2 separate regions of the Homo sapiens genome follow, and region 2 is linked to region 1. The links come from fine-mapping of genetic effects on gene expression. A gene starts in region 1. The other region holds a variant in brackets. All regions are shown on one strand. Distances are between the middles of the regions.

Evidence for each region. PIP is the estimated chance that this variant, and not a neighbour inherited with it, causes the effect.
Region 2: its variant is fine-mapped to the expression of LINC01841 in whole blood (TOPMed, PIP above 0.99).

Annotation. Positions count from the first base shown.
Region 1 is chr19:14,361,903-14,366,413 of GRCh38, forward strand. LINC01841 (long intergenic non-protein coding RNA 1841) reads right to left here and starts at 2,088. Exons shown (of 4, transcript NR_134908.1): 1 at 1,970-2,088.
Region 2 is chr19:14,388,699-14,392,698 of GRCh38, forward strand. It overlaps ADGRE5 (adhesion G protein-coupled receptor E5), which reads left to right. Exons shown (of 20, transcript NM_078481.4): 3 at 4-120; 4 at 2,226-2,381. Among named protein-coding and RNA genes, the nearest start is that of ADGRE5, 9.3 kb to the left of the region's middle. The variant A/G (reference allele first, on the strand shown) is at 2,034.

The DNA.
Region 1 (4,511 bases):
TGTGGGGATCTGGAGGAGGAGGTGGTGCTGCAAGTGAGAGTGAGCTGCCGTGCAAAGCCCCTAAGGTAGGAGCATGCCCAAAACGGCGAGGAAGCTGGCCTGGCTGAAGGGAATGAGCAAAGGGGAGAGAAGGAGGAGGTGAGGGCAGATAAGTGCTGAGCAGATCCTGCAGGGCCCTGTGGGCCACAAGAAGGAATTTGGCTTTTGCACTGAGTGAGGTGGGAGCCCTGGAGGGTCCTTGAGCAGAGGAGGGACGTGCCCTGACAGAAAAGCATGGAGCGGGCGAGCAAGGGCAGGAGCCAGGAGACCAGGGCAGAGGAGTCTGCACTGGGCCAAGGGGGAGTTGATGGGGCCGGACCAGGTAGGGGCTGTGGAGGAGGTGAAAAGTGAGTAGATGCTGGATAGATTTTGAAAATAGAGCTCTCGGGATTTGCTGATACAATAGAGAGAGAGAGAAAGGGACAGGGGCAGAGATAGAGGCCAGGCATGGTGGCTCATGCCTGTAATCCCAGTACTTTGTGGGGCAGAGGCAGGAGGGTCACTGAAGCCTAGGAGTTCAAGACCAGCCTGGGCAACAAAGTGAGACCGGGGAAGGAGAAGGAAGGAAGGAAGGAAGGGAGGGAGGGAGGGAGGGAGGGAGGGAGGGAGGGAGGGAGGGGAGGAAGGAGAAAGAAAGGGAGGAGAGATAGAGATAGAGGAAAGAAAGAAAGAAGGAAGGAGAAGAAAGAGGGAAGGAAGGAAGGAAGGAAGGAAGAAATGGAGGGAGGGAGGGAAGGAAGGAAGGAGAAAGAAAGGGAGGAGAGACAGAGATAGATGAAAGAAAGAAGGAAGGAGAAGAAAGAAAGAGAGGGAAGGAAGGAAGGAAGGAAGGAAGGAGAGACAGAGAACGAAGAAAGAGAAGAAAGAAGGAAACAGAAAGAGAGAACAAAATAAAACAGAGACAGAGACATGGAGGACTCCAAGTATTTTGCCCCAAGAATCTGGGCCAAAAGAAAGGAAACAAGGTGGCCGGGCGCGGTGGCTCCCGCCTGTAATCCCAGCACTTTGGGAGGCCGAGGCGGGCGGATCACGAGGTCAGGAGATTGAGACCATCCTGGCTAACACGGTGAAACCCCGTCTCTACTAAAAATACAAAAAATTAGCCGGGCGTGGTGGGGGGCGCCTGTAGCCCCAGCTACTCGGGAGGCTGAGGCAGGAGAATGGCGTGAACCTGGGAGGCAGAGCTTGCAGTGAGCCGAGATCGCGCCACTGCACTCCAGCCTGGGTGACAGAGCAAGACTCCGTCTCAAAAAAAAAAGAAAAAAGAAAAAAAAGGAAGGAACAAGGCTCAGAGAGGTCCAAGGAGTTGCCCTGGCGGTCCGGGGCCACAGTGGCCTTCATCCCCAGCTGAGATGTGTCCCCAGTCTAAGGCCACTCAGAGCCAGGCACCTTCTCCGGCTGCCTCCCAATCCCCGCCCCCCGCTTCCGTCCCAGCACCCTCACCCCGCCCCCGGGCCCCTTTGTCCTCCTCTTCGTCTTATTTCCAGAATTTCTCCTCCCTAGGGAATCCAGTCCATGTGCTTTTGATTCCTTTGTCCTGAACTCATGCGGCATGAGCACCCCTGAAGCCTTATGTGGAAAAATTTGGAGGCTGGGGGTGGGGAGGGGGTCACATTCCTCCCGGGGGTACAGAGCTACGTCGGCATCTCCAGGGCCCCCCAGCAGCAAGCAGGCATCCTCCCAGGCCAGGCCAGACCGGACGCTGCCCAACACAGGCTTTCTTTGGGGCTTGGCCGGCGCCCGACTACAGCCCCGGCTCCAGCTGCCCTGCCTGTCCCCCGCCCCCACGCCTCCCGTCCCAACCTCCCACACGTTTCCTCCTAGAAGCCCAGACCCGTGGGACTTGGCCTCCCCCGCGCCTTCCCTCTCTACTCAGCTCTGCAGCTCCTGTAGGCCTCCTCCCCGGGTGATCACAGAAGGACCAGCTCACCTTAGCGGGACAGGCAGGGCATGGGCGTGGCCAGAGCCTCGGGCAGGCATCCCAGGCTCCCTGGTGTCTCTCTCATCCGCTGGCCTCTGTGCCCTCTTCTCTTCCCCACCCCCGCTCGTGGCCCCTCCTGCCTCTCCATCGCAAAGTCCCCAGAGGAGTCTCCTTAATCACTTGCTTTTGACTGAATCCTGACCACCTGGACCCTGATCTAGCTACTGAGGAGATAAAGTAACCAACACTTAAAAGCTAACCTTCAGGCATTCTGGGAGGCTGAGACTGACGGATCACTTGAGGTCAGGAGTTCAAGACCAGCCTGGCCAACAAGATGAAACCTCGTCTCTACTAAAAATACAAAAAAATTAGCTGGCGTAGTGGCGGATGCCTGTAATCCCAGCTACTGCGGAGGCTGAGGCAGGAGAATCGCTTGAACTTGGGAGGTGGAGATTGCAGTGAGCTGAGATCGTGCCACTGCACTCCAGCCTGGGCAACAAAGCAAGACTCCGTCTCAAAAAATAAAAATTAGCTGGGTGTGGGGCCGGGCTTGGTGGCTCAAGCCTGTAATCCCAGCACTTTGGGAGGCCGAGGCAGGCGGATCACCTGAGGTCAGAAGTTCAAGACCAGCCTGGCCAACATGGTGAAACCCCGTCTCTACTAAAAATACAAAAAAAAATTAGCCAGGCGTGGTGGCGCATGCCTGTAATTCCAGCTACTCGGGAGGCTGAGGCAGGAGAATCAGTTGAACCTGGGAGGCAGACGTTGCAGTGAGCCGAGATCATGCCACTGCACTCCAGCCTGGGTGACAGAGCGACACCCTGTCTTAAAAGAAAAAAAATAGCTGGCTGTGGTGGCATGTGACTGTAGTCCCAGCCACAAGGGAGGCTGAGGTGGGAGGATTGCTTGAGCCCGGGAGTTCAAGGCTGCAGTAAGCTATGACTGCACTGCTGCACTCCACCCTGGCTGAGACCTTGACTCAGCAACAATGAAAAAGTGACAGGGCCAGGACTTGACCCCTGACCATTTTGTTCTACAGCCTTTCATGGGAAAGACAGATGAGTTTTCGACCTTCCAGAGCCTTTGATCCAGAGGAGAGAGGCAGGAAATAGCAAATGGATAAGAATATGCCATTCGGTGACTAGGGCAATGGAGATTGCAAAAGATGGTGGCTGGGAAATGGGGCTTGTGTCGGGGGTCCCTGAGACCACCCTCAGGGTCAATAATTTGCTGAGATTGATAGATCCCAGAAAAGTGGTGTTACTCCCAGTTATGGTTTATTACAGTGAAAGTTACAGATGAAAATCAGCAAAGAGGCCAGGCTTGGTGGCTCATGCCTGTAACCCCAGCACTTTGGGAGGCCCAGACAGGCAGATCATTTGAGGTCATGAGTTCAAGACCAGCCTGACCAACATGGTGAAACCCCATCTCTACTAAAAATACAAAAATTAGCCAGGTGTGGCAGGGGGCTCCTGTAATCCCAGCTACTTGGGAGGCTGAGACAGGAGGATCACCTGGACCTGGGAGGCAGAGGTTGTAGCGAGCCGAGATCCTGCCATTGCACTCCAGTCTAAGCAACAAGAGCAAAACTCCATCTCGAAAAAAAAAAAAAAACTAGGAATACTAGAGGAGAGGAGGTGAGGCAGACAGGCTCCAAGACTCCTCCATGATTCCCACCTCCTGATGTCTGCACTCTGTGTGATCCCTCGAGTGTGAGCTGGACCCAATAACTTGCTTCTAACAATAGACTAGGACAATGTATGCCAGGAGCAGTGGCTCACGCCCATAATCTCAGCACTTTGGGAGGCTGAGACAGAGGGATCACTTGAGCCCAGGAGTTCAAGACCAGTCTGGGCAACATAGCAAGACCCCATCTCTATAAAAATTCAAGCATTAGCTGGGTGTGGTGGTGCACACCTGTAGTCCCAGCTACTCGGGAGGCTGAGGTGGGAGGATTGCTTGTGCTCAGGAGGTCAATGCTGCAGTGAGCTATGATTGTGCCACTGCACTCCAGCCTGGGTGACAGAGTGAGACCTTGTCTCTCTCATATATGTGTATATATATATACATATATTTTTTTTTTGAGATGGAGTCTCATTCTGTTGCCCAGGCTGGAGTGCAGTGCAGTGGTATGATCTCTACTCACTCCAACCTCCGCCTCCTGGGTTCAAGCGATTCTCGTGCGTCAGCCTTCCAAGTAGCTGGAATTACAGGTGTGCAGTATCACGACCTGCTAATTTTTTGTACTTTTAGCAGAGATGGGGTTTCACCATGTTGGCCAGGCTGGTCTCGAACTCCTGGTCTCAAGCAATCCACCTGCATCGGCTTCCCAAAGTGTTGGGATTACAGGTGTGAGCCACCGCGCCTGACCTATGTGTATATATATACATATCTATAGATAGATAGATAGATAGATAGATAGATAGATAGATAGATAGATTTAATGTTACCATTTTATTCATCATGGTTTTGCATTAATCTTGACTTTTACAAAATATCACAATAAAATAATATTTATGAGTTCAGGACAAAGTTCTTGAGTTCTTTGACA
Region 2 (4,000 bases), 27 kb after region 1:
CAGGCTGTGCCCGGTGGTGCCCTCAGAACTCCTCGTGTGTCAATGCCACCGCCTGTCGCTGCAATCCAGGGTTCAGCTCTTTTTCTGAGATCATCACCACCCCGACGGAGACTTGTGACGGTACAGAGGCTTGAGGGCAGCGCAGGGGACATCCGCGATTATGAGGCATTGCCCAGCCAGTGGGGGACAGAGGTTGTTGTGAGGGGCCACAGCCTTACCTTCCAGACTATCATCATGGCCAGAGAAAAGAAAAAGAGGGCAGGCGTGGTGGCTCACGCCTGTAATCCCAGCACTTTGGGAGGCTGAGGCGGGCAGATCGTTTGAGGCCAGGAGTACTCAGAAGACTGAGGGGAGAGGATTATTTGAGCCCAAGAGTTTGAGGCTGCAGTGAGCTATGATTGCACCACTGCACTCTAGCCTGGGCAACAGAATGAGATCGTGTCTCAGGGAGAGGGAGAGGAAGGGGAAGAGGGAGAGGGGGAGAGGAAGGGGAAGAGGGAGAGGGGTAGGGGGAGGGAGAAGGGGAGGGGAAGGGGGAAAGGGAGGGGGATGGGGAGGGAGAGGGGGAGGGGAAGGGGGAAGGGGAGGGGAAGGGGAGGGGAAGGGGGAAGGGGAGGGGGATGGGGGAGGGAGGGGGGAAGGGGAGGGGAAGGGGAGGGGGATGAGGAGGGAGACGGGGAAGGGGAGGGGGAGGCAGAGGGAGAGGAAAGGAGGCAGGAAGGAAGGAAGGGAGGAAGGGAGGGAGAGAGATAGGCCCGGCATGGTGGGTCATGCCTGTAATCCCAGCACTTCAGGAGGCCGAGGTGGACAGATCACTTGAGGTTGGGAATTCGAGACTAGCCTGGCCAACATGGTGAAACCTCCTCTCTATACTAAAAACACAAAAAATTAGCCGGGGGTGGTGGTGGTCACCTGTAATCCCAGCTACTCGGGAGGCTGAGGCAGGAGAATCGCTTAAACCTGGGAGGTGAATGTTGCAGTGAGCCGAGATTGCGCCACTGCACTCTGGCCTGGGCGACCAGAGCAAGACTTTGTCTCAAAAAAAAAAAAGAGAGAGACAGAGAAGGAGAGAAAGAGAAAGAAAAGTAGGCCCGGCATGGTGGCTTACGCCTGTAATCCCAGCAGTTTGGGAGGCCAAGGCGGGCGGATCACCTGAGGTTGGGAGTTCGAGACCAGCCTGACCAACATGGAGAAACCTCATCTCTACTAAAAATACAAAATTAACCGGGTGTGGTGGCCCATGAGCACATGCTTGTAATCCCAGCTACTCCGGGGGCTGAGGCAGGAGAATCGCTTGAACCCGGGAGGCGGAAGTTGCAGTGAGCCAAGACCGTGCCATTGCACTCCAGCCTGGGCAACAAGAGTGAAACTCTGTCTCAAAAAAAAAGAGAAGAAAAGAACAAGAGAGAGAGGGAGGGAGGGAGGGAAAGAAGAGGGAGGGAGGGAAGGAGGGAGGAAGGAAGGAAGGAAGGAAATAAGGGAAGAATATGAAGGGGGAGAAGTAAGAAGTGAATAGGCATGGCTTCCTGGAGAGAGAGAAGCTGGGTGCTCAGGAATCTGGAGTCTGTGCCTCAGTTTACCCTTAAGACTGGGGAGGGGGTACATTCTGGCTATGAGGTTTTTTTTTCCTTTTTTTTTTTTTTGAGACAGAGTCTCACTCTGTCACCCAGGCTGGAGTGCAGTGACCCGATCTCGGCTCACTGCAACCTCCACCTCCTAGGTTCAAGCGATCCTCCTGACTCAGCCTCCTAAGTAGCTGTGATTACAGGCATGCACCACCATGCCCAGATAATTTTTGTATTTTTAGTAGAGACGGGGTTTTGCCATCTTGGCCAGGCTGGTCTCGAACTCCTGACCTCAGGGGATCCACCTGCCTCAGCCTCCCAAAATGCTGGGATTACAGGCGTGAGCCACTGCACCCGGCCGCCATGGGGTTTAAATTTCTACAAAGAGACTGGGGATGGGGATGTGGAGCTTCCTGTCCATCCCTCACCTCAGCACTGTTCACTGTGTCCAAATCTAAGATGCCAGCC[A/G]GAGAACTAAGATCAAGTGTGGTCTTCAGGAATGGCTTGCTCCAGCTGCAGCATAGCCTGTGCAGTGCAACTTAAGATTTTTTCCAAAAGATACTAAGCAGCAGGCCCCATGTTGGGGAGTCAGGATGGGGGTCTCTGCCCTGACAGAACTCACATCTTTGGGAGGTGACTCCCTGTCCTGTTGTGTTCCAGACATCAACGAGTGTGCAACACCGTCGAAAGTGTCATGCGGAAAATTCTCGGACTGCTGGAACACAGAGGGGAGCTACGACTGCGTGTGCAGCCCGGGATATGAGCCTGTTTCTGGGGCAAAAACATTCAAGAATGAGAGCGAGAACACCTGTCAAGGTAAGAACCACCCCACGTCCTCTGACTTTCCATCCATGAGGTTTGGGGTCACCAGAGCCATTCTGGCAGCATCCAGAGAGCAGGGCCTTGGTTGTAGGGTCAGTGCCTGGCGTCTGAGATGGGACAGGTGCACATGTACCTACCCCACCACCCCAGAGAGGCAGAGTGATGTGAGGATTAAGGGCTGACTCTGGGACCAGCTGCCTGGGCCAAATCCTGATAACCAAGTGTATGACGTTGGCCAGGATACTTATTCAGAAACCGCTGTCCACATGTGAGATGTGATAACGTTATCATGCTTGTAATTCCAGTGCTTTGGGAGGCTGAGGCGGGAGGATCTCTTGAGGCCAGGAGTTCAAGACCAGCCCATAGCAACATAGCAAGACCCCACCCCTATAAAAGGGGAGGCGAAGGCAGGTAGATTGTTTGAGCCCAGGGGTTCGAGACCAGCATGAGCAAGCGGGTGAAACCCCATCTCTACAAAAAATACCAAAAAAAAAAAAATTAATTAGCCAGGCATAGAGGCCTGCGCCTGTAGTCCCAGCTACTCAGGAGGCTGAGGTGGGATGATTGCTTCAGGCTGGGAGGTCAAGGCTGCAGTGAGCCATGATCAAGCCCCTGCACTCCAGCCTGAGTGACAGAGCAAGATCCTGTCTCTAAAAAAGAAAAAATCAAACCAAAGCTTTCTTGGAGGCAGGATTTTAAAAAATTAAAAACATTAAATGAAAAAAGAACTGGCCGGGCGCAGTGGCTCACACCTGTAATCCCAACACTTTGGGAGGCCGAGGTGGGTGGATCACAACGTCAGGAGTTTGAGACCAGCCTGACCAACATGATGAAACCCCCGTCTCTACTAAAAATACAAAAATTAGCCAGACATGGTGGCACGCGCCTGTAATCCCAGCTACCAGCTACTCCAGAGGCTGAGGCAGGAGAATCGCTTGAACTCAGGAGGCAGAGGTTGCAGTGAGCCAAGATCGCGCCACTGCACTCCAGCCTGGGTGACAGAGTGAGACTCTGTCTGAAAAAAAAAAAAAAAAAAAGATAGGTTGGGTGCCATGGCTCATGCCTGTAATCCCAACACTTTGGGAGGCCAAGGTGGGAGGATCACTTCACTTGAGTCTGGGAGTTCAAGACCAGCCTGGGTAACATTTCAAGACCCCATCTCTACAAAAACAAAAATATAGACAAGGGGAAGAAAGAGTCCTTATCTTTTATTTGTTTTGTTTGTTTGTTTTTGAGACAGAGTCTCACTCTGTCACCCAGGCTGGAGGGCAGTAGTGTGATCTCGGCTCACTGCAACCTCCGCCTCCTGGGTTCAAGTGATTCTCATGCCTCAGCCTCCCAAGTAGCTGGGATTACAGGCGTGAGCCACCATGCCCAGGCTGAGTCCTTATCTTTTAAAGATAAAAACAAAAGTAGCTTTGACTTTTGTTAAATATAGACCTTGGACAGGTTACTTTCACCTTGTTAAAAGGTTAAAGTTACTTTCACCTTGCTAAAAGGGGAGTAATGGCATTTACCTACAAAAGTATTTAACAGGCTGGGCACAGTGGCTCACACTTGTAATGCTAGTACTCTGGGAGGCCGAGGCAGGTGGATCATCTGAGGTCAGGAGT